Linked DNA regions of Homo sapiens. The protein of the gene in region 6 interacts with the protein of the main gene of each other region in a biochemical or structural test. Each region holds a gene or a part of one and is shown on either strand. Other genes may lie near its edges. The genes, in order: FRMPD2, PDZD2, PDZRN4, TAMALIN, CARD11, UNC93A and LIN7A.

Region 1 (4,251 bases), on a different chromosome or scaffold from region 6:
TCAGAGCATGAATGGCATCATGACTTACTAGCTGTGTGACCTTGGTGAAATTCCTTAGCCTCTCTGAATCTGTTTCCTCATGTAGAAAACAGAAATGACAGTTACAGAGGGTTGGAGGGAGGGTTACAAGGGAAGATAAAGCCTAATGGCAAAGTGCACTTTGTTTTAGAGACAACAAACAATAACATTAATTTTTTTAAAAAAAGCTCAGATTTAGTTGAAAAGTAGAGAACAGTAGATTTGAAGATTATTCCAAAAACCACTCTTTTAACACACCCAGAACAATAACTGAAAAAAAAATCAAGTTTTTCTTTTCTTGTTGTTTGTTTCAATTTGGATTTTCTCAACTTGGACAGTTAGAACTCATTTTTAAAGTTTTCATTTGATATAAATAACTGTGTTGTGTCCCCAAATAAGACTTTCCTGGGAACACAGGTGAGTCCTAAGCTCAGCCCCTTCTCTTCAGGGGCTTCCTGAAAGAGTGGCACTTACATAGGCTTTCTCTGCCATCACAATGTGGATGTGTAGCCCATACAGGGCAGGAAAAAATAGAATGGGTACCATCAGCCCACGCAGGGACTGCTTAGGGCACGTACCCACCTCTGCAAGGATGCAGACACTCCGGGGCCTGTGCCGCTGGGCTCTCGCTGCTTGTCCCACGCAGCCTCTTCCTGAGCAGGTAGCTTCTGTTCTGCTGCACAGAGGAGCTTTCCTCCACAACTCTTTTCTCCACCTGGGGGTCAAGTGCATCACACATCCACATCCCAAGATAAGGAGGGGGCGTTTTTATAGATACATGCAAACTGGCTGTCAGACTGAATCAATGTGGAATTGTCTGCCCTATACGGTGACCTAAAGATGTGTTCTCTGGCACCCAGAATGTGCTCTGTGCCCACCCCCTGCATGCACCCTGAAGGCACTTCACTCCCCACTCCAGACCTGCACACTCACACACATCTGTGCCTTTGCTCATGCATTCCCTCCATGGCTACAGCCTCCCCAGAAGCTCCTCTGTGCCCACAAGACCCAGAGCTGTGTGCTTTCTACTTCTAAGCCTCTCTACCTCTGCCGTCTGATCACCTTCCCTTATCACTGCACTCACACCTGGCTCTGTTGCATCATGTTCCATGAGTGTGCTGCTTGTCTGTCTCCCCCAACATCTCTGTGTGCTTTATGCACCACCGTAGCACACCTAATGCAGTGCCCAATGAATGTTGAATACGTGACTGACATCTACCTTGCAGATCCCTGACGGAAATGTTGCAGGTCAGTACACTGTCTATCCAAGGACAATGGCACACCAGTGGATGGTAGACCTCAGTATCTTTCAAATAAATATAGTCCATTTCCCCCACCAAATCCTCTGGCTCAATTCATAGGAGCCACATGTTCCTATGCCAAGAGAGAAGGGGTCCAAGAAGGAGGCCTTCTCTGATGGCAGAGGCCTTCTCTGATTGACTGTTGCCGCTGTCCACCCTGCTGTCCCCACATCTCCATCCACTTTGGCCCTCATTAATCCTGCTCTCAGCTCTCCAACTTGTCCCTGGACAAGTGCAGCCACTCAACTGGCCTCTAGCTTACCTGTCTCTGGTTCCTCCCAAATACAAACTTCCTTACATTTTGTGCCATAGGCACCTCACTTGCCCATCCTATCCCAGCTCCACTCAGGTCTCATGGGGGACCAACTCCATGGTGCCATTCCTGCAACAGAGCTCCCCAGGGGGCCAGGCTGGGCCTGTCTCCAGCTGAGACTATATCCTTCAACTTGTCAGCTGTACTACCATCACTCCCCTCTCCCAGGAACATTTCCCCAGTAAATAACTTGCACAAGAATCCCTGTCTCTGGGTTAGCTTGGAGGGAATCCAACCTAAGCCAAATGCCTCCCATGTGCCAGGCCCCTTGCTGCACTCTGTGGAGTGCACAGGGCAGCAAGCAGCACAGTGTGACAAGCACAACAAAGGACACCCCACAGGTATAAAATAGCAGAGGGGAGGGTACCCAGGGACCACAAAAACGAAGTCGGGGAAGGCTTCTGTGCAGAACCTAGAGTTGAATTTTGATAAGAAAACTGAATCATGGGTTCTAAACATTATTGCTTTATGTAAGGACGCACTTGCAAAGATGTCAAGGGTCTTAGCCATGTGACAAACTGGGGCTTGCCTAAAGGTCTTTGTTAGCACTGCCCAATAGAACTGCAATGACAAGAATGTTCTAGATCCACCCTGTTCAATAGGGTCATCACCTGCTACGAGTGGCAACGGAGCACTTGAAATGTGACAGATGTGACTGATTAATTTAATTTTTTATTTTATTTTAGTTAATGATAATATAACTAATTCAAATTTTAATAGCCACACATGACCAGCAGCTACTGCTTGAAAAGCACGGTTCTCTACTGACCTCAGAAATGGTACCCAGAACCAAGCCAACCAGCCTTCTGATGTGGAGACCAGCAGGGGCTGGGTAGACAGACACTTCTTTCTCATGAACCCGACAAGCTTCCAGAACCGACTGCAACGTGCACCGCCTGTGAGGCTGGTCTTCACACATGGTCAGCAGGATGGAGTGCAGGGGCTCGCAGAGCTGCAGGGGCTGGAGGCAGACAGGGCCGGTGAGAGGAGAGAGCAGCCAGAGCTGCCACTACGAGGCCAGCACCTTGTCAGGCAGGCCTTGGAGACATGGAAACGGGTGTTCCCACAAGCACCAGAGCAGATGCCTGCCCCTTCTGGAGAGTTTAAGGACAGACACAAGATCCATCACTGAGGCCGCAAAGTGCGGAGCAATCATCTCTGCAGCAATTCTGTGTTGTCTGCTGCTTTCTAAACCAGAACATCCTTCTGCCCAAGCACATGCTTGGAATGCTCATGAAAACTAGATGCTTTGACAAGATGGATTTCCACCTGTGCCAAGCACCCCAAATCAAACCAGAGGTCAGCCTTTCACTCAAGTTCACCTGCGTAGCTTGTCATTGTATCCAATCACTCAGGGGGTCTCACTTGGCCTTTCCCCTGGAATGTGAGCTCCTGGAACATACAGACTGTGGCCTATTCCTGTTCACTTCGGAACAGCCAGCAGTCAGCACAAATGCTCAATCGTTGTTGGTTGAACTTTATGTCACGTGTACACATCGAGCAAAAGAAAACAGAAGCATCTTATAAGCATTTCCCTCATGCATTTAAATGACCACAATTCATAGGAGAAAGTCCTCAAATTCAGATTCAAAATCAGACTTTTTCTCAAGCTCAACACACACTGCAGGTCACTTTCCAGATAAAGGCTGCACTACCGCTTCTTGCTGGGGAGCATCAGCTGTGAGCACCTATCTCTGTGTACAGCCAAGCTGCTGAGTCCTGCCGTCACAGTAAATCCAGGCGTCTTTTGTGCCTGGTGCTGCACAGCCACACCAGATACAGTCCCTGCCTTCAGGAAAATAATGGTGTGATGAGAGAGACGGTCACTAAAAGAGACAAAGACCATAGAGGATGACAAGGACTTTCACCTTGGGAAGCACAGGCCATGGCACTAATGTAGAGGAAGGGGCTTAGCCAAGGCTAGAGTTAACCAAGAGGAAAGTGGGGAGTGAGGTGCTGGTGAAGGGATCCGTGTGTACAAAGGCACGAAGATGCAGATGAGCTGACATGCATCTGAAGGGAAGGGGATTATGAGCAGGACAGGGGCCTGGGGGAAAATAGCAATGTGGGGTCCCTTGTTCAAAATTATTAAGAATTCCAGGACAGTGATAGCAGAGCATTAAACTAAGTGCAGGACCCTGTGCTATGACACAGGGTCACACACTCAGGACACACACCCAGGAAGCCGGTCCTGATTATGGCAGAGTGCCAAAGGGGAACCAGACGGGAGCAGGGACCCTATCCTAGGCTCCAGGTGTGTCTCACTGAGAAGTCAGAAGGCAACCCCACGGCCAGTGAGGCGTTACAAAAGGTTGCATGTGAGAGTGGTCGTGAGCTGGTCTCTTAGAAAGACCACCCAGGAAGAGCCCGGATGTTGAATTGGAGAGGGTCGGGGTGAGTAGAAAGAAAGGCAGGAAGGAAGGGAGGAGGAGGGAGGGATCCAGTCTAGCCAGGTCAGCTAGGCAGGGCTCTCCAGCAGGTGTTCTTGTGGCACCAGTCTCTAAGGAATTGTTATAGTATCAGATGGAAATGTACACAAACACTTCTATTCTGTAGTTGAAAATTGTGTAAAATATTAGGATATTTTTATGTAGTTCTTTTTTGAGACAGGGTTTTGCT
Region 2 (4,251 bases), on a different chromosome or scaffold from region 6:
GAATTTCATCTCCAGCTTCTATTATTCCAGCTTGTTCAGCCGCACCACCTACGAGAATAAACACAGAATAATTAATAGCTTGGCAGTTTCATAGTATTCAAAAATCCTAAGTAAACTAAAAACTTTTAAGTGATAAAAATATCTAAATAATATATTATTGAATAGAGAAATATTTCTTAGAACACAAAAAGCATATATCCATAAAAGTAAACTGGTCTACAGAAAACAGTGCAACTCTAGCCCTCCTGCCGCCCCTCCAAACATAATCTGTAAGATAAAAATAAACTGACAAGGGGAAGATACTCTCTATGTATTTAATCAACAAATGGTTAACATCCAGACTAAAGAGCTACAAGTCAACAAGAATAACACAAAATAAAGTTGGGGTAAGGAAATCAACAGCTGAACTCCAAACAGCCAGTAAACACAGAAAAGCAGGTTCAACTTTTTTTGTTGTTGTTGAGACGGCCTCACACTGTCACCCAGGCTGGAGTGCAGTGGTACAGTTTTGGCTCGCTGCAGCCTCCGCCTCACTGGGCTCAAGCGATCCTCTCACCTCAGCCTTCAGAGTAGCTGCTACCACAGGCATACACCACCATGCACAGCTTTTTTTTTTATATTTTTGGTAGAGATGGGGTCTTGCCATGTTGCCCAGGCTGTCAGCTTCTAATTGTTAACAGATTCTGGCTGATATATGCAAGTTCTGAGAATCAGTGATTATGTGCTCATTAGTGACCATGGGGACTACTTACTTACAGAGTTTAGCATGTTCACATTATAGCTTTGTCTAGCTTTGTATGAGCTTTGAAAAAAATGCAAGTGTAAACCCTCCATTTACGTTCTCACACATATACTTCTAAAGGTACACCAGCTATGGAGGCATCTTATGGAAAAAAAATGGCATTGAAAGAAAAAGTCCCAAGTGTGAAAAAAATTTTCTCAGAAATTTTGATTAGACCTCAAAAGACTGAGCAGATGTATCGATTTCATCCTAAATTACTGAAAGTCGTTATTGAAATTATTGAAATAAATATTATGTGATAAAAATACAGCTTGGAAGAAATCCAGCCCACACAAGGACAAAAACATTTTCTGTGGTAAATGATAGAGGCAGTTAGTTACATTAGAAGAGAGACCTCACCAATATCAGCCCTGTAGTGGGCCCCAGGAAAATGATTTGGTCCCTAGTCCTTGCTTTTCTTGAGATAGATACATTTTTGGAAGGACCAAAGAACCAATTATATTTGTGTTAACTTAGTACCCAATGTCCTATTCTAGCATATTAACCGAAGGCCTTCAGGTTATGTGAAACAAAAGAATTTTGTGAGTGTTCACCTGGGCTTCAGGACATGGGAGGTTCCAGGCAACCAGAACAGCCTGACGCACACTGAAGGAGCAATCAGACTGGGTTTGGTCTCAAATCTGTGACTTCAGGCAAGTTACAGATTTCTCCAAACTCCAGTTTTCTCATCTGCAAAATGGTGATGATGATATCTGTCTTGTTATCTTACTAGGTTGTTAGAAGGACTGAATGAGATGAAGTAGAGGAAAGTCTTCTAGGACAGGGGTCCTCAACCCTTGGGCCACAGACTGGTGGCAGGAGGGCTGCACAGCAGGTGAGCAGTGGGTGAGTGAGCAAAGCTTCCTCTGTTCACAGCCTCTCACCGTCACTCACACTACCACCTGAGCTCTGCCTCCTGTCAGATCAGCAGCAGCATTAGATTCTCACGTGAGTGTGAACCCTATTGTGAACTGCATATGCGAGGGATCTAGGTTGCATGTTCCTTATGAGAATCTAATGCCTGATGATCTGTCATTGTCTCCCATCACCCCCAGATGGGATGCCTGGTTGCAAGAAAACAAGCTCAGGGCTCCCACAGATTCTACGTGATGGTGAGTTGTATAATTATTTCATTATATATTAAAATGTAATAACAGAAATAAAGTATACAATAAATGTAATGCACCTGAATCATCCTGAAACCATCCCCCACCCAAACCCTCACCATGGAAAAATTGTCTTCCACAAAACCAGTCCCTGGTGCCAAAAAGCTTGGGGACTGCTCCTTTAGGAAACATTCAGTGTTGTACAAAGCAGAGGTTTGCCAGCTTTTGGACTTTTTACACAAGAGAGAAATAAATTCTCTCGTTTAAACCACTGCTATTTTGGATTTCCTATTACATGAGGCCAAACTGAATCTTAACAGATTTGAGCAGGATATGTCTCTCTCTCCATTTACTCATAGATTTTTTAAAATTGTCCTTTAGAAAGCTTTTATGCTTTTTCCCAAAAAGGTCTTGCATAGCTTTTGTTGAACACATTCTTAGGTTCCTTATGCTTACCATGAATTGGTGTCACACAGTGCACAATCTGCATTTGGCTTTTTTTCATTCAACACTGTTTTTGAGCCGGTCCCAGTTAGTATATAGAGAGAGGTGTAATTTATTTTTTCAACTGCTATTTAGCTTTCCTTTAGATGAATATATTTTATTCTGCTACAGATAGAAATTTAAATTGTTTCATAGCTTCCATTTTCGTAAGCACTGCTAAAATTTTCCTTAAAGATTAACCAGTAGATACTTGCACGAGAAAAAAAATGTGTTTTCCTTTCTCCACATCCTTGCCAACACATCATAGTATGAGATTTTTTATTTTTGGCCAACTTGATAGATTAAAAGAATGATTTATAATATTTCTAATTTTCATCCAATACATTTAAGTTTGAGCATCTTCCTGTGTTTCTTGGCCACCTAGGTTTTAACTTCTGTCCATTTGCTATTGCTTTCTTTACCCAAACTTTCTCTCTTGTATTTTTCTTACTGAATTATATAGTTCTTCATATATTCTGGATTGATTGATTGATTGATTGATTGTTTTTTTTTGAGACAAGGTCTCCCTCTGTCACCCAGGCTGGAGTGCTGTGGCACAACCATGGCTCACCACAGCCTCGACCTCCTGGGCTCAAATGATTCTCCCACCTCAGCTCCTGAGTAGCTGGGACTATAGGTGCGTGCCGCCACACCCGAGTAATTTCTGTATTTTTTGTAGAGGTGGAGTCTCGTCATGTGGCCCAGACCGGTCTTGAACTCCTGGGCTCAAGTGATCTGCCCACCTTGGTCTCCAAAGTGCTGGGATTACAGGTGTGAGCCACGGTACCCTGCCTATTCTGGATATCAACCCTTTGTTTATTAAATATATTGTAAATATCTTCTAATCACTTACTTTTGAATTTGCTTATAAATTTTGCCATATAATGAACATTTTATATGTTTTTTTTTTTTTTTTTTTTTTTTTTTTTTAGATGGAGCCTTCTCTGACCCCAGGCTGGAGTGCAGTGGTGTGGTCCTGGCTCACTGCAACCTCCGCCTCCTGGGTTCAAGTGACTCTCCTGCCTCAGCCTCCTGAGTAGCTGGGATTACAGGCATGCACCACAATGCCCAGCTAACATATTTTTAGTAGAGACGGGGTTTCACCATGTTGGCCAGGCTGGTCTCTAACTCCTGACCTCAGGTGGTCCACCCACCTTGGGCTGCTTAGGAGGCTGAGACACCAGATTCACTTGAACCTGGGAGGCAGAGATTGCAGTGAGCAGAGATTGTGACACTGCACTCCAGCCTGGGTGACAGAGCTAGACCCTGTTAAAAAAAAAAAAATTCTTTATTATTCAAATGCTTGTTCTGTAATAACCTTACTCAAAGAAATCAGTCTTGCTATATTGTTTTCTAATGCTTGAGCTTAAAGACACAGGAAAACAAAATGAACAGAAAACCTGTACTCATGAAATTTGTAAATATGAAATACGAGATAAGGTGAATCCTGACCTCAAGTGATTCGCCTGCCTTAGCCTCCCAAAGTGCCGGGATTACAAGCATGAGCCACCATGCCCGGCCAGATAATGACATCTTTAGTCTCACTAGTTTCCAAAGGTGGGATCTGCCGTATCATACTCAGAAATACTTGAATGGCTTTCCCCAAGAACAAAACCACAGGCTTGCACACGAGAGCATCTAAAGCGCTAGTCTGTGGGACTGACAATTTTCTTCTTCTCTATCCATTTCCATAGCAGTTTTCACAGATTTGTGGCCAGATGCTAGAGACAAAGGCTGAGAAGTTGTCCAGGACGTCATATTCTTGCTTTGCTGGAGGCAGATCTGAAGGATGTCATCTCTCCTGTGGCTTCTTCTAGTGTGGGGTCCCGAAGCCTGGCTTCCCCAGCCGATGTGCTGCTTTAGTCAGCGTCTGCCCTGGTC
Region 3 (3,714 bases), on a different chromosome or scaffold from region 6:
TTGTTGGATGAGGATGTTGCAGTGTCTGTTGTGCCTTCTTCTTCTTCTTGCTTTTTTGGCTAAGAAAATGATGTTGAAAGAACAAAGAAAATTAATGATTTTGGAAGACATTTGTTATTAAAAATCTTGTTTGAAAACCAATGTTTCCTGGCAAAGTTGCATCTCCTAGACAGTTGCTCTAATTTAGGGTCCATCACAATTTTAGAAATAAAGGAAATTAGCTCATGGCAGCTTTTTATACAATGAAATGAAGAAAACAAAACCCGCTTGAATATGGCTATGATATTCACATGGATATAAATAAGACAGAATGCATTCAAATAAGTGATTCTTTAGGTTTTCTCTTACTTGGGAAACTCGGGGTTGAAGGTGTATAAACAAAGTGACTGTATGAATTTCTGAGGTGATAATATGCAAAAGAATAAGACAGAATGTCTAAATAGTCTTCAGCAATATGGAGACCTGATGTTCAGAAGCCACAATCACCTTATGTTTTTCCCCTTAAGTACAGAGGAAACTTCACTGGCTTAGTAATATGCTGACAATGGGTAAGCCAAACATCACAGAGTTTTAGGACTAAGTTAACATTATGTACTGGAGCCTAGGACATTGCTATCTATAGGTGAGGATGCTCAATTCCAAAAGGATTCAGGTTATTAGTGGCAGATTCAGGTTATTAATGACAGATGGAGGCAAAGCTTCATCTTCCAGTGCCAGAATTTCTTATATGTCCAGGATGCCATATTCCTGAATACATGTGCTCTGACCTCAGTGCACTCTAAATCATGTTTCTCAAAAGCAACAACAATGTTTTAGGACTCATTGGGGTTGTATAAGATTTTTCTACTCTTAACCAGGGATTTTTTTTCAAAGATAAATTTTAGTCTATTGAGAATAAAAATTCAGTCCCATGAAAATTTGAACAGCACTGATTGCCAGACATGGGCATAATATCAAAAAAATTTTGACACTTATGTCACATATATGTATATAGGCATGCATGTATGTTTATGTAGTGTGTGTGTGTGTGTGTGTGTGTGTGTGTGAGAGAGAGAGAGAGAGAGAGAGAGAGAGAGAGAGAGAGAGACTCTGGTAATTTTTGGCTTTCATGTAAAACAATTAACTGTAACTGTCCTAATAAGATGCATGTGTAGTTCTTTCTCTGTGAATATGGTAAAGTTACTTTCACCTCTATCAGTCATCATATGATAATCTATAAGGCAGTTTCTAGGTTATATCTGCCTTATGCCTAAGTTTATTCACTATATATATATATAGATAGATAGATAGGTATAGATATAGCTCCATCCCTCTAGAAGATGTAATTACACAATTAAATATAATCAAGCCAACAGCTAGTGCTAAAGAAGGATAGAACGGGTGACAAAAGATATTCTAAAAGAAGTCTAAAAAGGTCTCTCTAGATAATTGTTATTTTGTTCCACAAAAGTAGTGGCAGGATAAAAAGTAACAATATCAAGAGGAGAGAACATAACCATGTATCAGCTTTTCTATGACTCTCAATCTTTCTTTCCCTGGAACATGTTCCTTCATTTGTTGAAAACATACTGAGATTTATCTTAAATGTCTTATTGATTAAAAAATTATAATAAGTAACTGTAACGAACAATGGGAAGCTTGCTGCATCCCTAGGCTGTGACTTATAAGGTGACAATAGTATTTAATATGGCAATGTCTTTATACTACACCATATAACTCTCAAAGAATGTTATTGATACTGGGCATTTGAATTTATATATCGTGTTATTTATAATTATATTTTTCTAATATCTTGTCATGAGCTGAAAAATACAAGAAGACTAGTAATTTTTTTCTTATTTTACATGCAGATGACATAATAATGACAAATTATGCTATGGGAGATGTTGCACAATGTAACGGCATTCATAAGACCAAACATACTGTGTAAAATGAAACTTTCCATAAAGTAGGTTCACATATGGGTAGGTATTTTATTTTTTCAATTGAATATCCCCTTTCCCTTGTTATTGGTCTATGAACAACTGTGAAAATAAAATAGTTTTCTATTCTCAAACCTAGAATTCCTAGTTTCTAATGCAATGCTACTCTATCATTTATCATTTCCCTATGGAATTATTATAGTGACAGGCAATGTTTCTACCTAGACATTTCTAATGTAGTATTATTGTTTATAAGGGCAAAGGACTTTTAAAGGTTTCTGTACTTCTCACCATTTTTTAGTCTCATGGTGAAGAAAAAAATTCCACACAATGAGAATCTAACCTCAGAGGCATCTAGTGTTACCTCACGAGACCTAACATTTGTATTACCTCTGATGAGTAGGCAGCGTTTGACACCGTTGTCACTTTACCTGGACAGGATTTCTCCCTGCTTTCCTTATTCCAACATCCTCCTATCAATTCAGTATCAGGTCACATTTTGTATCTAAGAAAAAAAAAGCCTGGAGCAAGGACTTTCTTGCTTGTAACCAGCAGCTGCCACCAAAAATATCTTTATTTTTGGCCAGTGTTGAAGTTATACATAAAAATTTTAATCTGCCCTACCTATATTGAAAGACAGTCACCACAGTAGCGATATTACTTGTGAGCATGAAATTCTGTTTGTGGAGTGGCCAAACTCCACATAATGAGCACATGAGTATATCACATATGACTATGTTGATGCTATAGTGTGCAATCTAATTATTTATTTAATATGTGGACATGTGCACACACATACACATTTCTGTTATGGGATGTTAGCAAGCTGAATATTTCATTATTCAACATGGTAAAGTGATAGAATGTTTGTGCTGCAAGTTTCTAAGCCTGTCAAGATTTTCAAAAAAATTATCATCTTTTAAGATGTGTTAAGAATTAATGTTGAGGCCAGGTGCAGTGGCTCATGCCTGCAATCCCAACACTTTAGGAGGCTGAGGCTGGTGGAGCACTTGAGGTCAGGAGTTCGAGGCCAGCCTGGTCAACATGGTGAAACCCCATCTCTACTAAAAATACAAAAATTAGCTGGGTGTGGTGGTGGGATCCTGTAATCCCAGCACTTTAAGAAGCTGAGGCTGGTGGACCACTTGAGGTCAGGAGTTCGAGAACAGCCTGATCAACATGGTGAAACCTCATCTGTACTAAAAATACAAAAATTAGCTGAGCATGATGGCGTGCACTTATAGTCCCAGCTACTCAGGAGGCTGAGGCAGGAGAATCGCTTGAGCCCAGGAGGCAGAGGTTGCAGTGAGCTGAGATTGTGTCACTGCACTCCAGCCTGGGCGACAGAGTGAGACTCTATCTTAAAATAATAATAATAATAATGATAATAATAAGAATAGACAGGGCACGGTGGCTCATGCCTGTAATCCCAGAACTTTGGGAGGCCGAGGCAGGTGGATCACGAGGTCAGAGTTTAAGACCAGTCTGACCAACATGGTGAAACCCTGTCTCTATTAAAAATACAAAAATTAGCTGGGCATGGTGGTGGGCATCTGTAATCCCAGCTACTCAGGAGGCTGAGGCAGGAGAATCAATTGAACCCGGGAGGCGGAGGTTCCAGTGAGCTGAGATTGTGCCACTGCACTCCAGCCTGAGCGACAGAGCAAGATTCCGTATATATATATATAATAAAATACATATAATAATGTTGAGAATAGGAAGATAATTAAACAAATCAGTAAACTGAAAACAAAATTATATCAGGCAGATAAATGACATGAGTGTAACATAA
Region 4 (4,989 bases), on a different chromosome or scaffold from region 6:
AGGCCAATCTGGCTAGCAGGTCAGTTTGCTGATCCATTTTAGAGAAAGTCAAGCCCAAATCAGGGATGGGACATGAGTAGAGAAGGGAAACTGTGGGGTCCCAGGGCCTGGAGTCAGCACCTACTTCTGCCCACGCTCAGATCCCTCCTAAGAGGGCTGCCACAGGCTGGGACCAGAAGAGGACTGACATTCTGGAGGCAGGGGCAGCCAGCCCCAAGCAGCTGGACACAGCCTGGCTAAGGTCTGGGCCCGTGGGGTTTGCCAAGGCTAGGAGGGCTCAGGGGAGCCCAGGAGGCCTGGGTTAGGACGTTCCCCATAGACTTTGCCTACACCCCCTCCCAACTCCCACATCCGTTCATCCAGATCTCCCCAGGGAGGGGTAACTGGCAGGGACTGGGGGTGTGTTGAAGAGCACCTAATGACTCAAAAGTCCCTACCTCCTTTCTCTGCCACCCCCTTCACACAGCCCTCACCCCCACCTGCCCTCACTCCCAGCGGGGGAGCCATGTTTAAAGGCTAGGAGAATGACTACCCTCGCTAGGCTGAGATGCTGTCCTGGCACCCCCCAACCCAGCACCTCACCCCTTTGGACCATGGCAGGGGCTGGGTGTTGGTGACTCACCGCTGCTGTTCAGGACTCTGGCTGAGATTCTTCCAGCGGAATCCTGAGCCCTGGGCAGTAAGATGGTCAGAAGGAGCAGGTAAGGCGGGACTGTCCTTGAGCAGACACTGAGAGGTTACCCTGGACACAGCGACCCACTTCCTGTCTGCCCCTTCCCAGCTCCACATCCACACCTGTTTTGGTGCTGGTGGAACTATTTGCCAAGTGCCACTACTGGCACCACTCCTCAACTTTCTCTACAGGCCTTACCTTCATACCTGGGACTGCAGGGACACAACCATCCTCCTGGGTTCCAGATCCATGAACCTCTAAGCCCTTGCTGGTTTCCACACTGGCAGCAGGTGGGGAGATCATTATTCTAAAATGGTCTCCACCCCTAGGGCCCATGTCTGTAGAGGCTCAGGCCATCCAGACTCCCAAAGCTGAGGCAGGGGCTCTTCCCCAGTGGGATTCAGAGGATAGGTGTCCCCTGGGCTCACCTATCAAGGTGCTCCGAGGACCTTCTGCCAGTTGGGTCTCTCCATCTAATTTCTCAGCTACAGACAGTGGCTTGGGAGGGCTGGGGTCAGGGACCCTGTCCCGAAGGGCTGGCAATCCCAGCCAGAATGTGGGGTCAGAGGTGCCAGGTCTCCTAAGGTACAGGCCGTTTCAAGGACCAGTTGTGGATCCCAGCTGCAGGTGACCAGCTGTGCCCAGCTATACCTGGGTCTCTCTCTCCATTGCCATATATTTTGTGCTTTCTGGGACAAAACATCTTAGATGTCAAACTTGTCAGCAAGTCTCACTAAAGGACCGAGACTGGGAGTTCTTTAGGGGTGGTGGTGGGGGGTGTGGAGGAAGGATGAGAGATGAAGGTTCCTGTCTCTTCAGGGTCCTTGATAAACTAAAGTAGTCTCTCACCCTCCCTAACTTTTTGGTCCTGGGAGGAGGTCCAGTCCCAGAGCAGCCCTTTTCTTTGGAGCCTGCACAGCCCAGGGCCTTTCTGTTCTGTGCCTTTGCTAACCCTCCCCCAAAGCTGCCCAAGGCAAGGAAGAGAAGGTTCAGAACCAGATTGGCCTCAGGGGTGGGGACAGTTCCCAAACGGCCAGGGAGGAAGGACTGGGCAGCACAGAGAGACCCCTTTGTCTTTCAACATGATTTTCATAAAATGCAAATTCTCAACAAGCTGTTCATTGTGTGGGGGCTAGCTGGGGGCCGGGGCGAAGGAGGGCGGCTGGGTGAGGAAAGGCCACCAGGCCCCTCTTCTTAACCTGGTGTTGTGTAGGTTCTGAGCCTCAGGTCTCCTGGGGCCAGAGGAAGAGGCTGGCAGAGGGGACTCAGAGGTGGGCGCGGCCCGCATCCTTCCTGCCCCGCGGGCGCCCTGCGACCCCTCCCACTGCGTCCGGTTCCGACAGAAGTCCAGGGAGCAGTGGCCCTCGCGCCCCGTACGTCAGACGTGGGGCCAGGCGGCAGGCCCCCAGCCCAGGAATCGGGGAGTCCCCTCGGAAGGGTGTGCTATCCGGAGTCAGCGGCTCCCCACGCACTTCCTCAGAGTGAGAACGCACGCGGCGCAGCCACCGGCCCGCTTCTCCCACCGGGGGCTCTCGGACCTTCAACTTGCCTGGGGCTGTCTCTGTCCCTCGGGCGAGGGGCTCCTGGGGACCCAGGACACCTGGCCACGGGGAGGCGGGGCATGGGGGGCAGAAAGCCAGATGGAGCGGGTAGGAGAAGGGGGGTGCTGGGAGGAGTCAAGGAGGGAGAGAGGGGGCGTGCATGGGGCGCGGAGTTAAGAGCCACCGAGCCTGGGCGCGGTGTGCAGGCGAGGGCCACGGCCTTCGCAGCAGCGGGGAACGCGGGGAGTCGAGGCACCCAGCGGGCCGGGGAAGAAGGTGGGGGACTCCGCGGACGCCGAGGAGAGGGCACTGCGGAGTCAGCAGGCCCTGTAGGGAGTCGGAGAGGGGCTGAGCAGATCCTGAAGGCGGGCGGGGGACGCACCTTTCGGCGGGGCAGGGTGCCCCCGGACACGGCGAGCGCGCGGTACAGCTCGGCAGGGTGATAGTCCTCCAGCGCCGCGTACAGCTCGTCCGCTGGGGGCCCAGGGGTGGCGGCTGCGGCAGGGGGTCCCGGGGTCGGGACCGGAGCGGCGGGCGCGACTTCCGAGTCGGGAGTCCGGGCGGCGGGGTCCGGGGTGGCCGCCGCCTCCTCCTTCTGCTGCAGCTTCCTGAGTCGGCGGAGGGTCATGGCTCCGGCGCCGGACGCCCCTCAGAGACGGCGCTGGCTCCCCTCGGCGGGGCTGGCGGCGGCTGGGGGATGCCAGCCGGGCGGGCCGCGGGTCGCCTCCCTTTATAGGCTCCGAGAGCGGGGCGGGGTTGGGGGCGGGCGGGGAGCTGCCTCGGGTGGCCTCGCCCCCAGCACGGAGGACCCTCCCCGCGAGGCGCCGCCGCCCTGGAGCCCCGCCCACGGCGCTCGACGGCCGGGGAAACTGCGGGAGCTGGGCGCTCAGTGGGGGAAAACGAGCCGCGGACGCGAAGGGGCGGGATGAGGCCCCCGGGGCGGGGCTCGGGGCTCGGGGCTGCGTGATACCTGGAGGGGTCTGTGAAGGGACATTGCGCAAGGTTTGAAATTTAGGGACGAATAGCTCTGGCGATTCATGGAGTGGGGCACGGTAAGAGGTCACTGTAAGAAGCCTGGGGAGTCGGGGAGGTAGGGAGAGTCACGGAGATCCAAGGGGCTGCAGGAGACTCCAGGGCAGGGAGAGCGGCAGCGGGGCTGCGCAGGAGTAGGGGTGGAGGCCCGATGGAGGAGGGAGGAGACTCCCTGAACTCACTGCGCAGAAGCCCCCAGGGAGGGAGAGGGCCCAGGATTTTCCCTTGACGCAGCTGCCCCAGAAGAGCTGAAAGAGGCTGCCCCCTGTTCGCACGTCTAGGAAGAAGGGAAGAGGTGGAAACCCTGAAAGCAGTAGGCTTAGTTCTGGCCTGTCCCCTCCAAGGGGCTTGAGTGATCCCTGCTGGCAACACCTTTCCTCAGCTCCTGATGCCGGGGTCAGATCCCCCTTCCCAGGAGACAGACGCTTACTGTGGACTTGACTCAGGAGGTTGGGATGAGCCCAGGCTGAGTGGGAGTTCAGGGCTGGGGGGATGGCCATGCTCAGCCGTTCTCTGACCCCATCTTAGGGACCATCCCCCAGGCTGTTACCATGGCTGCCAGGCGGTAGGAGAGGCGGGAATGGCCCAGCCGAAGTCTCTGTCGTCAGTGGTGCCCGAATAAGAAGTGAGAGGAGGAAGTGGAAGGCAGCGTCTGGTGTCTAAAGAGCGGCTAGCCACCACAGGGCGTCAGCAGCACAGGCTGGGGACTCCATGTCCCAACACCCATCGGCCAAGAAGCAGAGGCGGCAATGCGGTGCCCTTGTCTGTCCCCTCCCTCCTCCCCCAGTCTTCCCAAATCTGTTATGCCTTCACAGTTAACATTTATTGAGCACTTAGCATGTGCTATGCACACTGTTTGTTCTGTGTGTCCTTTTACATACATGCATTAACTCACTTGGTCTTCATAACAACCCTACGAAATAAGCACCATTATCCTCCCTTACAGATGAGGAAACTGAGGCCCAGAGAAGATAAGTAATTTGCCCTAAGTCACTCAGCGGCAGAGCTGAGATTCAAAGCCAGGCAGCCTGGTTCCAGAGCCTGCAATCTAACCACTCTGTGATGTTGTCCAACATTTAAGCCCTGCTGTGTGCCAGGTACTGGCTGGGCACTGGGGTTACAGAGGCTCTTGGCCTGGTAGGGAGTGGTACCTTGCACATGTGCTGTGTTAGACACGTGGCATAAGGAGCACAGAGGGGCAATGGCCACGTCCACCTGCGAGGCCAGGAAAGACTTTCTGCCTCCTGCCTGTCTCAGTTCTTGCGCCTGGCTCAGTCTTCTTCTCTAGTCTCCTTGACTCTGTGTTCTCCTCCCCACCCCCAGTCCTCTAGGCCCCCATCCCCTACAAGAGGTGTGGGTGGAAGAGGGTGCTTTTCCGCCCCTCAGTGATTGCACAAGTCCAGATGGCAGGATGCTTGTTGGGTGGGGGGCCGGGGTGGATTGAGGACTGCCAGGAGCTAAGAGGTAGCTCTCTTAGTGCCTTCTTCTCCCTCCTCCCACCTCCCGCCTTGGCACCACCAAGTGGCCATCAGCTGAGGGGCCGAGGGGGTGTCAGTGGGGAAACATGGGACTCTATTGTGAAGCATTAGCACAGATGGACCCCAGGACCGTCTGTTGCCTGCTCCTGACAGACAGCATCTGTGGGGGGTGGGAGGGGGAGACGCAAAGCGGAGAGGCAATGATGTATATTCCATTCATTCCATTGCTTATCCCCAAAGGGACCCAGCAAAAGGGCATCTTGCA
Region 5 (4,251 bases), on a different chromosome or scaffold from region 6:
ACAGCTAATGTCATACTTGACAGTGAAAGATTGGATGCTGTCCGCTAACATCAGTAACAAAGCAAGGATTCCTGCTGTTAACATTTCTATCTAACATTGTACTGGAGGTATTTTAGCCAGAGCAATTAGGCAAAGAAGAGAAATAAAAGGCACCCAGATTGGAAAAACAGAAGTAAAACTACCTTTATCTGCAAATGACATGATCTTATATATAGGCTATCATAAGATGTCTCTAACAAACTAACAGAACTAATAAATGATTTCACAAGGTTGCAGAATACAAGGTCAATATACAAAAATAAATTATATATCTATAGACCAGCAATGAATATCCCACAAATGAAATTAAGAAAAAAACTCCCATTTATAATGTCATCAAATTAATGAAATACTTAGGAATATATTTAACAAAAGAAGTGCAAGACTTGTACACTGAGAACTATGAAACATTGCTGAAAGAAATTAAAGAAGATTTAAAGAAAGACATCCCCCTGTTCATAGATCAGAAGATTTAATATTGTTAGGTAGCAGTACTCTCCAAATTGATCTACATATTCAGCAGATTCACTACCAAAATGCCAACTGCCTTTTTTGCAGAAATTGACATCCTAATCCTAAAATTAGGTAAAAGGCACCTAATAGCCAAAACAATCTTGAAAAAGAACAAGGTTGGGAGACCCATACTCCCAATTTCAAGGCCTACTACAAATCTACAAATCTTCGGTAATCAAGACAATGTAGTACTGGCATAAGGATACACATATAGATCAATGGAATAGAATCAATAGTGCAAAAACAAATGTTTACTTTTATGGTCAGTTGATTGTCAACAAGGGTAGCAAGATCATTCAATGGGGAAAGAGTAGTCTTTTCAAACAAACTGTGCTTGGACAACTGGACATCCACACATAAAAGAATGCAACTGGACCCCTACCTCACACCATACACAAAAATTAACTCAAAATGGATCATCCTCAATGTAAGAACTAAGGTATAATATTCAAAGGCAAAAAACAGGAGTAAGTCTTCATCATCTTGAGTTAGACAATGGTGTTTCGGATACATGCCAAGAGCACAAGTGAAAAAAAGAAAAAATAAATAAATTGGACTACCTCAAAATTTGAAACTTTTGTGCTACAAACAATGCTTTTAAGAAAGTGAAAAGACAACTGACAGAGTGGGAGAAAATATTTGCAAGTCATATATCTGATAAGTGGCTTGCATCCAGAATACATAACAAAATCCTACAACCCAATAATAAAAAGACAAACAACACAATTTTAAAATGGGCAAAGGATTTGAATAGACATTTCTCAATGCACACAAATGGCCAATATGCACATGAAAAGATGCTCAACATCGTTAGTCATTAGGGAAATGCAAATCAAAACCACAATGAGATGCTACTTCACACTCAGTAGGAGAGCTGTAATAAAAAAGACAGACAATAACAAGTTGTTAGCAAGAATATGGAGGAATTAAAACCCTCATGGCTTGTTGGTGGCAATGTAAAATGATGCAGCTGCTTTGGAAAACAATTTGGCAATTCCTCAAAATGTTAAATATAGAGTTGCCATATGGCCTAACAATCCACTCTTACGTATCTACCCAAGGGAAATAAAAACATACAGTCACACAAAAACTTTTACATGAATGTTCATAGCAGCATTGTTCATAATAGACAAAAGGTAGAAATAACTCAAATGTCCATTAGTGGATGAACAGACAAGCAAAATGGGGCATGTCCATGCAATGAAAAAATCACTGAGCAATTTAAAATAAGTGAAGTCCTGATACATGCTACAACAGGAACAAACCTTGAAAAGTTGCTGAGTGAAAGAAGCCAGACATGAAAGACCATAAATTGTAGGATTTCACTTGTATAAAATGTACGGAAAAGACAAATCTATACAGACAGAAGGTGAACGAGTGGTTACACAGGGCTGGAGGAGCAGGGATTAGAGGGAAATTGAGAGTGGCTAATAAAGGGTGAGGAGCTTCTTTTTGAAATGACGGAAATGATTTTAAATTGATTGTGGTGGTGGTTGCACAGCTCTGTGAATATACTAAAATCATTGAATTGAACATATTAAAAAGGTAACTTGTATGCTATGTGAATTACATCACAATAAAGCTATTTTTAAAAACGAATGACTTAGATCTATATGTATCCATCTAGATAAATCTCAAAAAAAAATGTAGAGGGAGAAAAACATGCTGAAAAAGGAAACGTACAGTATGACACCATTTATGTGAAATTTTAAAACAAAAGCCAATAGTATATATTGTTTAGGGAACTATACATTTTTAGTAAGACATAAAAACTTGGATGGAAAGGGTAGACTCAACCGCAGGATTTTCCCTCTCTGCCCTATAAATAATCTTTTTTAAAATTGATGGCTTAAACTTCCATTGTTTATGTTTAGCATATAAGGAAATATATATTTTTATATTCATAACCCCTTTCTTAGACAAAAGGTAAAATGCTATATATACTTTAGTGTACAGGACTTTTTTTTAACTTAATATATTCTAGAGGTCACTCCAGAGGAGTTGATAGAGCTGTTCCAGTGAGACTGCTTTATTAAGCTTGTTGGGGTTTATGTCTAAAAGGAGGAGGGCCAGAGATGGATGACTACATGGAGACGCTGAAGGATGAAGAGGACGCCTTGTGGGAGAATGTGGAGTGTAACCGGCACATGCTCAGCCGCTATATCAACCCTGCCAAGCTCACGCCCTACCTGCGTCAGTGTAAGGTCATTGATGAGCAGGATGAAGATGAAGTGCTTAATGCCCCTATGCTGCCATCCAAGATCAACCGAGCAGGTAACCTTAGGACCTCTTTGCGGGAGAGGGAGGGCTACCGCACACGGCAACTTCCAGACATACCCTTTGGTAGCTGTACCAAAATGAAGTTGCTCTAGGTCAGGGATTTTTAAACTGGGGTCCGCAGTCCATCACCTACTCATTTGTGTATAGAACTCAAGCTGTCTGTGTATGGAACTCAAAGGATCCATAAACTGGGAGGGGGGAAGAAATGCCATCTTTATTTTACCAACCTCAACTGCAATTCAGCATTGCCCTCAATTGCAAATGTCAGGAAGCCACAAATTACAGGAGTGATTAGTAATTCTTGTGACTTAGGCAACAATGAAAATTACAGATCTCTTCCTATCACTACAGTTACTGCAAATCTCTCAAAATGCCACTTACACTCATCTCTCTTTCAAAATTACAGTACTTATTAGACCTGCCGAGAGGTCTTGTTATTTAATGCATTAATAAAGAAGTATGTTACTGAAACACAAATTTATTTAATATTTGATAACTGGATTTTATTATAATTGGTTTCTTTTGTAATCTGATGTACTTTATCTGTTTAAAAATATTCCGAGAAGGGTTCCACAAGCTTTTCTAGCCTGACTTCTGGAGGGGGGGTTTATCATATTCAGTAAAGGTAATAAATATGGTTTGTGAAGCTTGTTTTAATTTTACATTATGTACATGTGTATACACATGTACTTGTAGAGTTATCTTTGTCTATGGTCACTAGACCACAATGTTAAATGTTTTTCTTTCTATGGATCAGTTTAGAAGGTTTGATAATCACTGTCCCCCAGCGTGGCTGGTGGTAAGTGGCTCATCAGCTGCGACTCTCTGGCATCCATGGCAGACATCAGTAATCAGCATGCTTTCCCACTGAGCTTGGATGTAACTTTGGAATGTTTCTCGAAACAGTACTGCAGGCGGCTTCACCAAACAATCGGGGTTGACATACCATCAAATTTATTTCTTCTGTCCGTCCTAGGGAAAAGGTCGAGTTTTAAGACCTACCTTTCTTCTTCTATATCTCAGAAGAATATCTGAAAATAAAATGTTTAAGGAAGGGCCCAGAAATGTAAGCAATAAGTGGAATCAATAGTATAGAAACTGGGACCTGCTGGGGAAATTACATTTAAGGTGTTTCCAGGTTGTGTAATAATCCCAAAGAAAAACCTAGAACTATCCCTACTTCCTATGATTTTTCCTAGCCTCTCACCCAAAGATTTGTCTTCCTGCTCTCAATCCCAGAGAACCATATATTATTCCATAATTTTTATCGTGCTTCCAACCTCCTTCAGTCATAGAAGACCTGGTGCCTACGTGGTTCATTTTGGCCCTGGTCAGTTGGGAAACTCTTCAAAACTGGGGCGGCAATTCCATTTATCCTGGTTCTACCAGTTTATTAGAAACAGAAAACTAACGCTCACC
Region 6 (4,251 bases):
TTGCTTAAGTCAAGTCGCCCATTCGAGCTGGGGTGCAAGACTCTCTACCCCTAGGACAGCAGTCTCTTCATGACTGAAAACCTTTATTCAGATGTGCTTGTGAGCAGAGGCACACTCCCGTGTACCTGGGCCTGGGGTGTAAACATGCAGAGCCTTCCAAGGAGCCCACGGGACGATGGGAGGTGGCAGTGTGAGCCACAAGCCACACACATCACAGGTCACTAGGGTCAGTGTCTGTGGACGGGGCTCTGGGGCATCCTGGGCAGTGGTGGGTTTTCTGGGAGCAGCAGGTGGGGGCCCTGTGGATGTGGGGGAGCAGGGGAGGCCAGGGTGGGCTTCCTCCTAGAGGCTACATCTGCATCACGTATGGGCTGACCACTGTCCAGGTGGGGTGGGGTGCAGGAGGAACCAGGGCAGGAGGTGGCAGGGATGCTCCAAGGCCTTGCTGGGGCTGGGGCCCCTAAGAAGGCGGCCTGGGGGGAGTGCAGAGGAGTGGGGTGGAGTGGCAAGTCGGGTCCCCAAGTGTGGGGCCAGCATGTGGGGGAGGGTCAGATGCACCTAGGTCACTGGAAGCAGCAGAAAGCGCTGACACCCAGGAGTGACTGGGAGCTATGTGGAGTCGGCCCCGTGTCACAACAATCAATTCCAAAAGGCAGGTGACAAGGTCCAAGGTGCGGCCCTGTGGGGAGCCGGGAGGGCTGGTTGTCGGATAGAAGGTGACATCCCATGATGATGGCAGGAGCCAAATGCCAAAGTCCTCACAGAATAGGGTGGCCTGGCCAGGAGGTCAGGCAGGGCAGTGAGGACACGGATGGGAGATGAGCGGGAGCCAAGGAGCCAAGCAGGAGCCAGGGAGGAAGGGGCCCCAGGCTCAGGCAGCTGCACTAGAGAGGCCTGAGGGCAAGAGAGCTGGAAGGGGACATGGCCGTTGCACCTGTAATCCCAGCTACTCGGGAGGCTGAGGCAGGAGAATCACTTGAACTCCGGAGGCAGAGGTCATAGTTAGCCGAGATCGCACCACTGCACTCATGCCAGGCTCTGCTGAGCTCCGAGGTGCTTTGTGCGGGCTGGCTGTGTTTTCCACAAGGAGATGCGTGAGAGCGTTTTGGAGGAAGGTCACTAGGAAGAGAAGGAAGCTGGGGCAGTGTGTGTGGCCGCTTGCCGGAGGGTGTGCGTACTGGGTGGTGTTGAAAATGACACAGATGAGGACTTAGGGTAGGAACCCTGAATTTCCCAAAAAACCCCATCTAAGGCCCCGAGGGGTGTCAGAGGCCCAAAGAGGCAAGACTGCGTGTCTAAGAGATGCTGATGAGGTGAGATGAAGTGTCCTCTCGGAGGTGAGCATGGCTCACATGAGACCCTCTTCCCTTCAGGAGAGACTTCACCATTCTGCCTTTATCTGGGAAACACTCGGGGCTTAGAAAATGGAAAAAGCAAACCCACAAACGAACTACAGGCCAATGTTTCTGAGATGACAGACCTGGCTGCTGTCCCTGCACTGAGGATAAAGAGCACATGTGACCTCAGATCGCGGACAGAACACTCCAGCCACGTCCTTTCTTGTCTTCCTGGTGGGTTGCGTATCCACAGGACAGCTGAAAATCACCTTTGAACAAACCCACACTGTTGGATTTAAGGAGCCGTGTTTCACAGTCCTTTCTGCTGCCCCAGTAATGCAGGTGGACCTAGTGAAGCTCTTCACCAAAATGCGTGTGTACTTGGCCCAGCGCCACACTCTGGCTTGTTGGGATCAAGGCCTGGAGGCTGGAAGGGGTAGACTGGACCCGAGGCCAGGCCGGGGCATTGCTTAACAGAACAAATACTGATTTAATGGAGGGGAGACAAACAGCAACTCACTTTGGTGTTCTTGGCAGTGCAGAATTATAAGCTAGTGGCATGTCACCTCGCTGCAGGACTCTTAGCTACGTTACCAATAAGCATCAAACAGTATTTGTTTAAACTGTCCCCTGGATGTGTGGCAGAGCCGGTGTTTCACTGAGCTCCCCAAATGCACATCCCATTACCAGAAGTGCACCATGACTTATCTGAACTTACATGAATTTTAAAATGTATTTACACATTAAATGAAAAGGAGAACACTGGGACAAATATCCCCACAATATTCCATACGATAATTCCCTAAATGCTCCCAATGAATGTGATCATTCATATTTGGTTTTTGTTCTTCCTGAGCTATGTGAACAGTGGACTTAACTCTCCTTTTCCTTATATGGACACATGATACTCTCAGGGAAAGCCTTGTTGAATTGTGCAAACAAAGTTACCTAAGGTCAAACAAAGAGTATCAACGTCCAAGTCCGGTGAATGACTGGAATAAAGACTCCCTTTAATAAGGGATGCTAATTTAAATTGAAACTGTTTCTGTCTTTCTGTACAGGAAAAAGTAATTTTTTTCAAAAATAAACCAAACTGGCCGGGTGCGGTGTCTCACCCCTGTAATCCCACCACTTTGGGAGGATGAACCAGACAGATCACTTAAGCTCAGGAGTTCAAGACCAGCCTGGCCAACATGGTAAAACCTCATCTCTACTAAAAATACAAAAATTAGCCAGGCGTGATGGCACATGCCTGTAGTCTCAGCTACGAGGGAGGCTGAAGCTGGAGGATCACATGAACCTGGGAGGCAGAGGTTGCAGTGAGCTGAGATCACGTCATTGCACTGCAGCCTGGGCGACAGAGCAAGACTCTGTCTCACAAAAAAAATGTTGGGGAAAATATTTTCATATACTTGAGAAGCTCCTGTGGACTTTATACTCGCAATCGTCATGCGTGAGTGGCATTTTAGTGCCGCGTTCCTGCACTCCTGGCAGGCTGGCTCTCCATGCAGCACAGCACACACACAAGGTCTCTGTTCTCTATTTTTTGAAAAAACTGGAAATTTTATGTAGCTTTGGCTACATCTCAAGAACAGCTCTCTTCATTTTTGTTTTTCTAAGTAGCAAGTTAGATTTCTAATCCTATTCTCCCCAAATGTATGCTTTCCTTTAAGAACATATGTGGACCACGTATGTTCTTAATTAACGACACCGAATAAAACCCAATGCACTTTGTCCTCACCTTTCAGTCATCACTGCTCAATTTAAAGACTGGTCCTTACAGTCTCCCACTTAGAAGCAGGTCAGAAGACTTCACCATTTGAGCCCCTCCTTCCTGGGCCAGAATTGAGGATCCCTGGCTCACTGTCCCACTGGGCTCCAGCCATCCCCTGGCCTCTGCAAGGGGAGATCTGTGCCAGGCACTCCTCTCTGCTTATTCCCTCAGACAGCTAATGAAAGATGGGTGCAGTTGCCATGGCAACCCTTCCCCGCCAATGCGCTGCCATGAAGATACAGAATGTCTAGTCTAAAAATACTCTTTTGCTCTGTTGGCTGTTTTCAGGGTGATAAACTCAGAAAATCTCACTTCTTCAGTGCCCTATTCACTTAACCTGTCTTCTCTGACTAAACAAGATTGCTGGACTTCTCATCCACATCCTGGTCTCTTTAACCCTGGGCCACCTGGGAAGAGGAGGCAGACAGGCCAGGCTGAGAGCAATGCTTTGTCTTTCTAAATACAGCTTTTATTTTGAAATAGTTTTAGATTTACAGAAAAGTTGCAAATGTAGTACAGAGAGTCCCCTTGAAAGGTACCAACCTATAGATCCAATGCATTTACCCCGTAGGCCCTGTGCCAGCTTCCCCAAATGCTGAGCATCTCACAGAGCCACGGCACATTCGTACAGCTAGGAAGTAACGCTGCCATGTGACAGTTAGTGGGGGGACAGCCTTTATTTGGGTTCCTCCAGGCTTCCCACGAGGGTTCTTTTTTCTGTGCCAGGATCCTGTCCTGGATTCCCTGTTGGACTCAGTCATCGTATCTTCTGGCTGCTCTGTGACAGCTTTTCATTTTCCTTGTTTTTCATGACCTGGACCCTTTTGAAGAGCACCGTAGTCTGTAGGCTGTTCCTTAATTTTGGTTTGTTTGCTGTTTTCTCATGATTAGGCTGGGGCTGTGGGTTTGCGGAGGACAGCTCCCTGGTGAGGCACTTTCTTGTCCCGTCATATGGGGGATACAGGACAGGGACAGGCCTCCTCACCAGCGATGTTAACCTTGATCCCGTTGGCTCCGTGGTGCCGGCCACATCTCTCCACTGCAAACCCACTGCCTTCCCTTTCCACACGCGGTTCTGCGGGAGCGAGTGCCCAGGGAGCCAGCAGTCAAGAAGACAGCAGCTAATCTCCACCCTGAGGA
Region 7 (4,251 bases), on a different chromosome or scaffold from region 6:
TTGTTAGAAGAATGAAGGGCAGGCTGGGTGTGGTGGCTCATGCCTGTACTCCCAGCAGCTTGAGAGGCTGAGGGAGGTGGATCGCTTGAGGTCAGGAGTTCAAGACCAGCCTGGCCAACATAGTGAAACGCCATCTCTACTAAAAATATAAAATTAGCCGGGCGTGGTGTTGCACACCTTTAATCCCAGCTACTCGAGAGGCTGAGGCAGGAGAATCTCTTGAACCCAGGAGGCGGAGGTGGTGGTGAGCCCAGATCAGGCCACTGCACACCAGCCTGGCCAACAAGAGTGAAACTCTGTCTCAAAAAAACAAAAAAGGGCAAATAAACCAGAAAAAAAACCCTTTTGCACTAAGTATATGACAGTCACATACTGAAACTGTTTTTCTGGTTTGCCTTTTTTTTTTTTTTTTTTTTTTTTTACAGTGTTTGAGACATAGAAACTTACACTGTGCACATCTGATTTCGTGGTTATTTTTCCTGTGGCATTTTAAATTAAGAATTCCTTTTCTATTGAAAAATGATTAATGTTCACCTTTCTTTTATTTTAGTTACTTTATGTTTTTATGTTACATTTAAATTTTAATTAATCTGTTATATTTAGCATAGTGTATGAGATTGAGTCTCCATTATTTTGTATTATTTAATTTAGTTAATAGTCCTTTTCTCCTTTGGTCTAAAGTCCACATTAATAATAAATAAAGCTTTCCATGTGATGACTCTCCTTCTGGACTCTGTGCTATGTTCTACTATCTCTTTTATACACACAATAAGACACCACTTTAATCATTGTAGATTCTTAATAAATTTTAATATCTGATACAGAAATTTTCTCTTTGTTACTATGTTTTAATTTTTTTCAAAATTTTGTTGACTAGTGCATTTACTCTTCCAGATAAAATTTGGAAATTTCATTCCTAATGTTAGCATTATAATTTAGGTCTTCATTGCTTTTCACCCTTATGACCTGAATCCCCACACAGTCCATTCTGTGACCTAGTGCAGCCTAACCTGCTTATAGTTTAACCACAATGTAATAAATAATAACGATGATGGTAAGATAACTCATTTGCCATGTTTTCTTAAAATTTTAAATTTTGGGTTCTTAATGTGATATTAATTTCAGATTTGTCTCCAGGGAAAAGAACATTGAACCTCCTCCCTTTAAGAAGTGTCATTGTATTTTCAGAGTGTGGAAGGAGAACACCATGAGAAAGCTGTGGAACTACTCAAGGCTGCTAAAGACAGCGTCAAGCTGGTGGTGCGATACACCCCAAAAGTTCTGGAAGAAATGGAGGCTCGCTTTGAAAAGCTACGAACAGCCAGGCGTCGGCAGCAGCAGCAATTGCTAATTCAGCAGCAGCAACAGCAGCAGCAGCAACAAACACAACAAAACCACATGTCATAGGTGAGAAGTGACTTATTCTATACAAGGAGTATATATATATATATACACACACACATATATGTATATATGAATATACTTAAAATATATTTTAGATATGTTCTAAAATATATTTTCTTAGCTGAAACAAAATCATTAGATTTAAATAATCCAAACAAAATCAATCAAACAAAAGACAGTGATCTAAAAGTATATAAGCAAGATAGTTTATGTGCCATTCAGCTATATTCTCCACAAATATAAGATAATTTGGAAAATGATATACTTTGAAAGGGGCAAGTACAGGCTCTAGGATGCTTTTATACAAATTAAGAAAATGCAGCCTCTGTGCAAACCCAGATCCTAAGGAGAAGAGTGTGGGCTGGATTCCAGGCCTCACTCACCCTGTTGGCCAGTTGCCTTTACACAGTGTATTAACTGCACAACCTTATAGTGCTGACCCTGGAAAGATCTCCTTTAGAATACTGAGATACAATTTATTGGAAAAGTGCCCCACTGAAAAGAATGAAGCTGAGACCTGCCACTGTCTATGCTGTAAGAGATTCTGAAGTTCTCTGCGGATGCTCCTTTAAAGTGTGTCTAACATACAAATGGCCAACAGCTATATGAAAAAATGCTCAACATCTCTAATCATCAGAGAAATGCAAATTAAAACCACAATGAGATATCACCTCATACCTTTTAATTTGGCTATTATCAAAAAGAGGAAAGATAACAAGTGCTAGTGAGGATGTGAAGAAAAGGGAACCCTTGTACACCGTTGGTGGGAATATAAATTGCTACAGCCAATTTGACAGACAATATGGAGGTTCCTCAAAAAAGTTCATAGAATTCCATATGATCCAGCAATTCTGCTTCTGGGGAGATATTCAAAGGAATTGAAATCAATATGTCAAAGAGATGTTTACACTCCCATGTTCAATACAGCATTATTACAACAGCTAAGATATGAAAACAACTGAAGTGCTATCAAGGGATGAATACATTTTTTAAATGTGGTAAGTATGTGATAGATATCTATATCTACCTACACACACACACACACACACACACACACACACACACACACACACAGATGTATACCATTTAATATTTAGCCTTTAAAAAGCAGGAAATGTCATTTTTGTCAGCGTGGATGGGCCTAGAGAACATCATGCTAAGTGAAATAAGCCAAGCATGGGCAGACAAATACCACATGATCTCACCTATGTGTGGAATCTGAAAAACTTTAATTCATAGAAGTAGAGAGTAGAATGTGGTTTCCAGAGGCTGGGAGGCTGGGGGAGGAGGGTAGACAGAGAAAAGGGAAAAGGTCTTAGCTAAAGGTTACAAGTTTCAGTTAGGTAGAAGGGGAATAAGTTAAGATGATCTATTATACAACTTGGTAACTATAGTTAATAATACTACATTGCATATTTCAAAATAGCTGAGAGAATGGACTGTAAATATTCTCACCACAAAGAAACAATAAGTATTTGTGGTAACAACTTTGGTAGCCTGATTTGATCATTCCACAATGTATACATGCATTGAAATATCGCATTATAATCCATAAATATATAAAATTATTACTTGTCAATGAAAAATAAAACTTTAAGAGTTTTGAAAAAGTTGTAAAGTAGAAATAAAATGTGTCTAAGATTCTCCTGCCTTTTTCTAAATTCCACTTTGTAACAAAGAACACTAAATCAGGTTTTGCTGTATATTATCAAGAGAATTGAAGAAAAAATGTTAAGAGACCCCATCTTAGAAGTTCCTACTATGCCCTATGCCCTTATCACATTTTATCCCTAATCCTCAGAAAAAAACCTTCAAGGCAAGTATCAATAAATAGTTTTTTAGATGAAAATATGAAGCTAAAATAGCTTCAGTGGATTTCCCATGACTGCATTTACAGAAACATAGAATTCTTTTCCTTTTTACTCCATCAGGTTTTCATCTGCCAACATCAGATATTCTGGAGTTATATAAATTTTCCTTGCTATCCTTTGGAGAAGACAGTTCATATTGTTAGATACCTTTACACTATGATGTCTGTGAATGTGTATTTGAAGTGAACTTCAAATATTCTTGGAAAAATGATTGTGGGTAATAGTGGTTTTAGGTCATTCAACATCAGATTACTATTTGCACAAACAGAAATATTGGATATAACATGAGGCTTTTAATTGTTTGTGACACTTGTGAAAAGAAGAAGCTACAGGCTGGGAGCAGTGTCTCATGCTTGTAATCCCAGCACTTTGGGAAGCCGAGGTGGGTGGATGACGAGGTCAGGAGTTTGAGACCAGCCTGACCAACATCGTCAAATCCCATCTCTATTAAAATTCAAAAATTAGCTCCTGTAGCCCCAGCTACTTGGGAGGCTGAGGCAGGAGAATTGCTTGAACCCAGGAGATGGAGATTGCAGTAAGCCGAGATCGAGCCATTGCACTCAAGCCTGAGCAACAAGAGTGAAACTCTGTCTCAAAAAAACCACAAAAAAAAAAAAATGAAAAGAAGAAGCTACACAGAAAAGGGGGGAAAAGATAGGGATTTGTCCTACAACAATCCTGGGAATTCAACAATCTATCTATCTTTCATAGGCTGCTATTTTTATTATATGTACCATATTTTAGTATCTTTATCTAAAATTGCATTCTATCCTAAAAAATACATTTATTGGGAGCCAAGCGTGGTGGCTCACGCCTGTAATCCCAGCACTTTGGGAGGCCGAGGCAGGTGGATCACGAGATCGGGAGATCAAGACCATCCTGGCTAACATGGTGAAACCTCGTCTCTACTAAAAATACAAAAAATTAGCCGGGCGTGGTGGCGGGCGCCTGTAGTCCCAGCTACTCAGGAGGCTGA

The links.
Region 1: the proteins of UNC93A (region 6) and FRMPD2 interact in a test that uses a peptide from one of them, tested with the Homo sapiens proteins (one large-scale study listed by IntAct).
Region 2: the proteins of UNC93A (region 6) and PDZD2 interact in a test that uses a peptide from one of them, tested with the Homo sapiens proteins (one large-scale study listed by IntAct).
Region 3: the proteins of UNC93A (region 6) and PDZRN4 interact in a test that uses a peptide from one of them, tested with the Homo sapiens proteins (one large-scale study listed by IntAct).
Region 4: the proteins of UNC93A (region 6) and TAMALIN interact in a test that uses a peptide from one of them, tested with the Homo sapiens proteins (one large-scale study listed by IntAct).
Region 5: the proteins of UNC93A (region 6) and CARD11 interact in a test that uses a peptide from one of them, tested with the Homo sapiens proteins (one large-scale study listed by IntAct).
Region 7: the proteins of UNC93A (region 6) and LIN7A interact in a test that uses a peptide from one of them, tested with the Homo sapiens proteins (one large-scale study listed by IntAct).

The regions. Positions count from the first base shown.
Region 1 is NC_000010.11:48,239,760-48,244,010, forward strand, and holds part of FRMPD2 (FERM and PDZ domain-containing protein 2), read right to left. Parts: intron 2,594-4,251; coding exon 2,402-2,593; intron 734-2,401; coding exon 601-733; intron 1-600.
Region 2 is NC_000005.10:32,103,766-32,108,016, reverse strand, and holds part of PDZD2 (PDZ domain-containing protein 2), read right to left. Parts: exon of another isoform or gene 3,302-4,251; intron 1,894-3,301; exon of another isoform or gene 1,837-1,893; intron 1,730-1,836; exon of another isoform or gene 49-1,729; coding exon 1-48.
Region 3 is NC_000012.12:41,568,709-41,572,422, reverse strand, and holds part of PDZRN4 (PDZ domain-containing RING finger protein 4), read right to left. Parts: intron 60-3,714; coding exon 1-59.
Region 4 is NC_000012.12:52,004,873-52,009,861, reverse strand, and holds the start of TAMALIN (protein TAMALIN), read right to left. Parts: upstream 2,917-4,989; 5' UTR 2,843-2,916; coding exon 2,597-2,842; exon of another isoform or gene 2,207-2,596; intron 2,041-2,206; exon of another isoform or gene 1,102-2,040; intron 673-1,101; coding exon 623-672; intron 1-622. UniProt on the Homo sapiens protein: Plays a role in intracellular trafficking and contributes to the macromolecular organization of group 1 metabotropic glutamate receptors (mGluRs) at synapses.
Region 5 is NC_000007.14:2,946,150-2,950,400, reverse strand, and holds part of CARD11 (caspase recruitment domain-containing protein 11), read left to right. Parts: intron 1-2,613; coding exon 2,614-2,826; intron 2,827-3,313; exon of another isoform or gene 3,314-3,804; intron 3,805-4,251. UniProt on the Homo sapiens protein: Adapter protein that plays a key role in adaptive immune response by transducing the activation of NF-kappa-B downstream of T-cell receptor (TCR) and B-cell receptor (BCR) engagement.
Region 6 is NC_000006.12:167,308,167-167,312,417, forward strand, and holds part of UNC93A (protein unc-93 homolog A), read left to right. Parts: intron 1-1,373; coding exon of another isoform or gene 1,374-1,612; exon of another isoform or gene 1,613-2,430; intron 2,431-4,251.
Region 7 is NC_000012.12:80,808,621-80,812,871, reverse strand, and holds part of LIN7A (protein lin-7 homolog A), read left to right. Parts: intron 1-1,188; coding exon 1,189-1,407; intron 1,408-4,251. UniProt on the Homo sapiens protein: Plays a role in establishing and maintaining the asymmetric distribution of channels and receptors at the plasma membrane of polarized cells.